Regions from separate parts of the Homo sapiens genome. Here region 1 is reported to be linked to region 2. The links are microRNA targets in miRTarBase. Many come from high-throughput screens and were not tested one by one. Region 2 holds a microRNA gene; the other region holds the end of a gene's coding sequence.

Region 1 (3,221 bases), not on the chromosome of region 2:
GAGCCACTGCTCCTAGCCCGTTTCCATCTTTGATCACCTATTCTGTGAATAAATTTTCTGAAAACTTAGCACTTTAAAGCAACCATTTTATATTGTGGGTCAGCCATCTGGGAAGCAATCTGCTTGGTGGTTCTTTTATAGGGTCTTTCCCATGGTTGCAGTCAGATGTCTGCTGGGGCTGCAGCCATCTGAAGGCTCTATTGGGTTGGGCATCTCATTTGCATGGCTGAAATTGATGCTGGCTATCAGTCAGAGCTTATCTGGGCCTGCTGATCACAGCACCCACATGGGTCTCTCTAGCATGGGCCTCTCTCAGAGTAGTTGGACATCTTACATGGCAGTTTCCCACTGCCCCCAAACAAGCTACATAAGAGGATCAAGTGGGACTTGCACTTATTCTAGCTTAGCCTTGGAGGTCACATAGCATCATTTTTGCTTTATTCTCTTGGTCAAAGCAGTCACAGAGTTTTCTCAGATTCAAAAGGAGGGGACATAGATCCCACTTCTAGGTGGAAGGTGAGTGAAAGAATTTTAGGACCTTGCTTTAAAACAGTCACACCATCCAGTGTCTTTTCCTCCTTCACCCCTTTCTTCTCCCTTCCTCTTTAACTCTTCTCTGCTTTCCTCCATCTCCCCCTTTCATGCCTGTCCAGCTATTTTCAATTTTGGAGTTTCTGCACCATACTATGGAACTGTCTTCTTTACTACAACTCCAGTAAACAAGTCCATGAGCCCTTTCAGAGACGGACTTACCATGAGGTCGATGGAGCCAAGCCTCAGGGTCCTCGCTCGAGCGAGCCCCTTTTAAGATTCTGGGAGTGCTTCTAGCTATATGTTTACATGGTCAGATGACTTGTAATATCTGCAAAAGTAAGATATTCTAACCATAATCGCCAATCCACCTTCCCTTTCCACTCTGACCTTTCCCTCTGTCACACTTCTCCTAGGTCAGGTGGTGTTTGGGCGACTGCCAGCATTTTAGGCATGCAAATTAAAAGGAAGTTGAGTTGGGGATATATTTATTTTGGAGTTAGTAGAATATATTTAGGTCGTTAGCTGTCATTTGTATGTGTAGGAAGTTGCTGCTAGCTGTCCTGGTGGAGAAGCAGCTGCAAATAATACTCCTGTTTTCTACTGGGCCTATTCCCTTGATGTTATGACACTAAGTTATGGGACTAGAGGTTGCACTGTAAAATGAATGTTCTTAGCCCAAGAAGGTTGCGGGTGGTAGAGGAGAAACAAGTTTTGAAATGTGTGGAGCCAGGAAAACAAGCCTGTGTAGCATTCTTTCAAATATCAGATACATCAATTTTTTTTTTGAGATGGAGTCTCACTCCACCGCCCAGGCTAGAGTGCAATGGCACGATCTTGGCTCACTGCAACCTCCACCTCCCGGGTTCAAGCAATTCTCCTGCCTCAGCCTCCTGAGTAGCTGGGGCTACAAGTGTGCACCACCACACCTGGCTAATTTCTTGTATTTTTAGTAGAGATGGGGTTTCACCACGTTGGCCAGTCTGGTCTTGAACTCTTGACATCAGGTGATCTGCCCCCTTCGGCCTCCCAAAGTGCTGGGATTACAGGCATGAACCACTGAGTCTGGTCAGATACATCACATTTTAATTAGAAAAAAAAAATCAGCTCTTATGGAAGCCTGTTCAGAAGTTCTTTTGTAGTAAGCATATACTTGATAATTCAATATGTACAATTTTAAATGTACCATGCATTTTTTCTTTTTTTAATAGAGTTGTACAAAAGATAATTTATTAAAATTCCTGTGTTTCTAGGACACAAACCTGTAACAGAACTGCAGACATCAAGCATGGCTTCAAGCATTCAGGTACATGTTTTATCCAATTCACCTATAATAAAAATTAAAATATCATATTTTGATCCCCACATTAAATAAAAAGTTATCTTTCCATTCTCTCCACAGAAATAGTGCTTTACAGAATTGAGGTCATAAATGTAAACAATGAATTATTAATTTATATGGGTTTTGTGCAATTTTTACTGTTTGTCAGCCTTTAAAAATTTGCAGCTGGTTGCAATTTCCCTCCTCATTTGAAATAATATTCTCTTTTGTACTCATTTGTGCTTGGTTTCTTTCTTTTTTCTTTTCTTTCTTTCTTTCTTTTTTTTTTTTTTTTTTTTTTGAGTTTTGTTCTTATTGCCCAGGCTGGAGTGCAATGGTGCAATCTCAGCTCACTGCAACTTTTGCCTCCTGGGTTCAAACAATTCTCCTGCCTCAGCCTCCCGAGTAGTTGGGATTACAGGCATGCACCACCACGCCTGGCTAATTTTGTATTTTTAGTAGAGATGGTGTTTCTCCACGTTGGTCAGGCTGGTCTTGAACTCCTGACCTCAGGTGATCCGCCCTCCTTGGCCTCCCAAAGTGCTGGGATTACAGGCGTGAGCCACCGTGCCCAGCCTGTGCTTGGTTTCTAAAGGAGCTCCTCATTTATCAGGTTTAGACCATACAAAATCTGGATCTGCACTGGCTCCATTCTTCAGCATCTTAACGACAACTTTACCAAAGTAACAATGTCACTAGCATTCTCAATTTGCAGGATTTTCATACTCTCTCCCTTTTTTGGTGTCACCAGAAAATGCAATGGCTTTTTGTTCTCTGAAAATTGCATATAGAGAGATGTGAGTGTATGTCAATATCAGCATATTGCAGATGTGAATTATTCAGCCTCGGAGAGATCGGACCCCACAGAGCACTTTATTAAGGCAACTGAAGCCTTCATACAAATAAATGGGGGGTCTGAAAGTTGAAGACATAGAGTTTCATACTGAGAAGTGGTCAAGGGGAAGAGCATTGTGTTTGAAGAGATGCTACGCTGGAAGAAAGTGTGTAAGCAATTCCTGGGGTTCAGTTTCTGGAACAGCCAAGGTTTGGCCCGTGGAAGCCAATTTGGAGCATCAATCAGGCACACGTGGAGAGAGGCCTGGATTATGAGCCAAATCCTGGAGGTTATTCAAGCTCCTCCTTATGGTATAAAGTAAGGCTGACCTGTGAAGCAGAAGAATAAAGGGTGAGATGCTTGGACCCTGACCACATTAGGAACCAAATCTTGCACCTAATGGGAAAAAGGAGGTGGGATCATTTTTACATCTTTGGGCAGGAATGGAATGAAGGTGAGTTTGGGGGCTCCTAGAATGATCATGAGTTCTGACTTGTCCAGTAGAGTCCCAGTTTATGCCTGTTGTCTCAGTGT
Region 2 (3,524 bases):
AGGAGAGGGGCAGTGACACACCCAGAACTTCATAGCCAGTAAGAGTGTGAGCCATGCAGCCATGGCAGAACCTATGCCTACCCGACCCCATCTGGACTTCCAGCTCTAGGCAATTTCTGCAGCGTCCCTTCCCCCTCACCACCTTCAGCCCCTGGCTCTTAGAGCTGCCTTCAGCCTTCGTTTGGACAAGTAGCTGAGCTCAATGTCTTCCCAGCTTTCCCCTCCCGGATCACTGCCCAACTCTGGGGGCCTCCTTCCTCTGCCCTGGGCCCTCCCACATACCCATTTCTTAGGGGCTCCAAGTCCACATCTCCCATCTCCCCATCCCCACACACTCACCCTGGGCAGCAGCCAGCTCCTGCAGGGCATGGGTCATCTGGGTGAAGGTGTCATGCAGGTGGCTTCTCTCATCATAGTCTGGCGGTGAGGGAGGGAGCAGGGGCTGGGGGAGGCAGCTCCCCGCAACACCATGTCCCTAATGCGAACATTCTGTTTCTGAGTCTCTGCCCTCCCAAGTCTGTATCCTCCCCTCTCTGACTCTTTGCCCCACAGTCGCTATGCTTCCTGAGTCCCTCCCAAGTCTCTATCCTCCCTGAGTCTCTGCCCCCGACCAGTCGCTATCCTGCTTCCCCTAGTCTCTGCCTCATCTCTGTCCTCCTCTCTCTGGGTTTCCATCCTCTTTGAGTCTCCATCTTCCACCCTCTGAGTCTCCATCCTCCCCTCTCTGGGTCTCTATTCCCTCTCCAGTCTCCAACCTCTCCTGACTCTCCATCCTCCCCTTTCTATGAGTCTCCATCCTCCTGACTCTCCATCCTCCCGAGTGTCCATCCTCCCCTCTCTGACTCTCCATACTCCTGAGTCTCCATCTTTCCGAGTCTCCATCTTCCTCTCTCTCTGAGTCTCCATCCTCCCCCTCTCTGAGTCTCCATCTTCCCCTCTCTGACTCTCCATCCTCCCCTCTCTGAGTCTTTGCCCTGCTGTCTTCCCCTGTCTGTGTCTCTCTGTCCCTAAGTCTCTGTTGTTCTCATGGTCTTTGAGCCTTTCTCCTCTGACTGTTTCTCTCTGTCTGTCCCTCAGCCTGACCCTCTGGGCCTCTCCTGCCCTCCCTCTGCACCTTCCCCAGGACACTGATGAAGTGTGGATGGTCTCCTCACTGATTTCGGTGTCAGAGAGGCCCTGGAAGGCGGCCGTGAAGGCCTCCTCACACTCTTCAAGCTTGGGGCTCCGCATCCCAACAAACATCTGGCAGATGCGGAGGCGCTCAGAGTAGGTTGTGAAGCAGAGGAGACAGGCCCAGGCGGGCACCCTGAAGACAGCCAGGGCCAGCAGGGCAGACGGGACGGCACTGGCCAGAGCCAGCAGGGCCATCGTGTGGGTCTCAAGGCCAGGGGAGAAGCTAGTAACCTTTATGAAGTCACCACAGGGCGGGGGAAGGGCCAGTGGTCTGGGGTCAGAGGTCAGGTTTCAGTTGGTGGTCAAATGTCATGCTCTGGAGGAAGGGTATGAGGAGTCAGGGGTCAGAAGTCAGGCCAGCAATTCCCCAGGTGTGTGGTTGGGCCAGACGCCAGGCTCCCAAGAACCTCACCTGTGACCCTGGATGTCCTCACAGGTTAAAGGGTCTCAGGGACCTAGAGACTGGCAACATGGTGTGCGGTGGCCCGGTAGACCCTGGGGTGGGGGTCAGAGATGGAGATAGGCACAGAGACATTCTGAGAGCCAGAGACAGAAAGACCAAAAACGACAGAAATAGAGACACAGAGAGATATCGGGAGGGGCAGAGACCTAGAAAGCCAGAATAAGAGGGAGTCAGAGGATCCACTGTGAAAGAGACACAGAAGCCACAGAGACACAGCAGAGATGGAGACAGACAGGGAAGGAAAACAGATTTCAGGGGAAGGAGGGGATGCAGGGACAAGGACAGAAAAGAGCCCGGCTCTTCCTCCCAGGGTCCCTGGGGCAGCCCAGTGGGGCTAAGGGTCCCTGAGTGGGGCTGGGGGTCCCCGCCGGGCCCCGTCCCGTGCAGGGCGCAGCCTGGGGAAAGCTAGGAGGCCGTATAGTGATCTCCTTGGGTGTCCTCCTCAACTATACAACCTCCTACCTCAGCCCGGGGGGCGCGGCAGGTGGACAGACCCGACAGACAGACAGACAGGGACCAGGAGGACCAGGGATGAGGGGGAGGGCCGGGGAGGCCCCAGCCGCGATGGTGAGCCCCCGACACGGACCCACAGACACGAGCTTGTGTGCGGCGAAGGCCCCGCAAGGTCGGTTCTACGGGTGGGTGCCAGGACCCAGGAGTCCGGGCCCCCGGCCCCTCCTCCCCAAGGAACCCAGGAGTCCAGGCCCTCAGCCCCTTCCTCATCAGGGACCCTGGAGTCAAGGCTCTCATCCCCCTCCTCCCTAAAGAACCCAGAAGTCTAGGCCCTTCCTCACCACAGACCCAGGAATCCAGGCCTCTGGCCCTTTTCTCCCCAAATGTTCCTGGAATCCAAGGACTCAGCCCCTTCCTCCCTCAGACTCATGAGTCCAGATCCAAAGCCTCCTTCTCCCCAGAGACCCAGGAGTCCCTGCCCCCAGCCCCTCCTCCCTCCGGCCAGGCAGGCCTCCTGGGGAAGGCATGGCCTGATAGAAAACCTGGCTTCCTGGGTGCCGGCTGGGAGGGAACCTCATTTGTCTCGTAATTTGGCCCTTTGGGCACACCTGCTTCCTACCTACCCTCCTGTCAGTCTGCAGAGACTCCAGGCCCAGGGCTAAGGAGGCCAGGGGCTAGCCAACCATCAGAGCCTCCCTAGGTGCTTTCTTTCCTCTCTCCTCCCTTCTTTGGGTCATTTACAACTATGACAGCCACAATCTCCCAGCGCTGACCCCATACCAGGCCCTGAGCACCAGTCCTCTCCCTGACACCTCCCACTCCAGAGAGCGAGGTGCCCTCAGCATCCCCATTTGGCAGGTGAGGGGGCTGAGCCTCAGAGAGGGGAAGAGGCTCCCAAAGTCTGCCCAGCCCCATCTCTGTCCTCCCTCTTGAATCCAGGAGGTGTCCCCAGCCTTCTCCAGCTTCTGGACCCCGGGACCCAGCACCCACCCTCCCCACCCCTGGGCTCTGAGCCCCTCCAGCTGGGGTCTCTCCCGTGCCCAGCCCCTCCTCCTGGACTGTCTGGTTCTCGCTGCCCCTGCTCCAGGCGCACCTTCCGGTTCCTTTCTCGCAGTCCAGGTCTCTCTGGCCCTGCCTTTTTCTCTCTCCCTCTTTCTTTCCACCTTCCCTGGTTCCCAGCCTCCTCCTGCATCAGGACATCCCTCCCTGGCTCTGCGCTGGCTTCTCTCTCTGCCCATCGCCTCTCTCCTCTCCCCGCTTCTGTTTTCTTCCTTCTCTCCCCCTCTTTCTCCTGCTTTTCCTCTACCTTCTGTCTTTCATCCTCCCCTTCTCCCCCTTCCCCCTCTTTGTCTCTCTCATTCTCTCTCTGGCCCTCTCTCAGTCTCTCTCCTCTTTCTCACCCTTCTCCACCCCCTTTTTTCGGATGTCTTTCCTC

The links. Region 2 holds the annotated microRNA hsa-miR-125a-3p (ACAGGUGAGGUUCUUGGGAGCC, at 1,568-1,589, opposite strand). A microRNA usually pairs through its seed, bases 2 to 8, with sites in the 3' UTR of a target mRNA and lowers its output. Matches are read on the target gene's strand: a 7mer-m8 pairs with bases 2 to 8, a 7mer-A1 pairs with bases 2 to 7 and ends in A, and an 8mer does both.
Region 1: miRTarBase lists WFDC6 as a target of hsa-miR-125a-3p. The part of its 3' UTR that is shown has no 7-base or 8-base seed match.

The regions. Positions count from the first base shown.
Region 1 is chr20:45,531,490-45,534,710 of GRCh38, forward strand. It overlaps WFDC6 (WAP four-disulfide core domain 6), which reads right to left. Exons shown (of 3, transcript NM_080827.2): 3 at 2,707-3,016. The coding sequence ends at 2,978. LOC107987282 (a long non-coding RNA gene) reads left to right here. Exons shown (of 4, transcript XR_001754641.3): 2 at 1,785-1,837. Among named protein-coding and RNA genes, the nearest start is that of WFDC6, 6.4 kb to the right of the region's middle.
Region 2 is chr19:51,691,371-51,694,894 of GRCh38, reverse strand. MIR125A (microRNA 125a) reads right to left here and starts at 1,641; the gene lies at 1,556-1,641. It overlaps SPACA6 (sperm acrosome associated 6), which reads right to left and starts at 1,565. Exons shown (of 9, transcript NM_001316972.2): 1 at 1,155-1,565; 2 at 340-417. The coding sequence starts at 1,368. It overlaps SPACA6-AS1 (SPACA6 antisense RNA 1), which reads left to right and starts at 1,439. Exons shown (of 2, transcript NR_108100.1): 1 at 1,439-2,261. It overlaps MIR99B (microRNA 99b), which reads right to left and starts at 2,283; the gene lies at 2,214-2,283. It also overlaps MIRLET7E. RefSeq lists an enhancer at 3,290-3,524.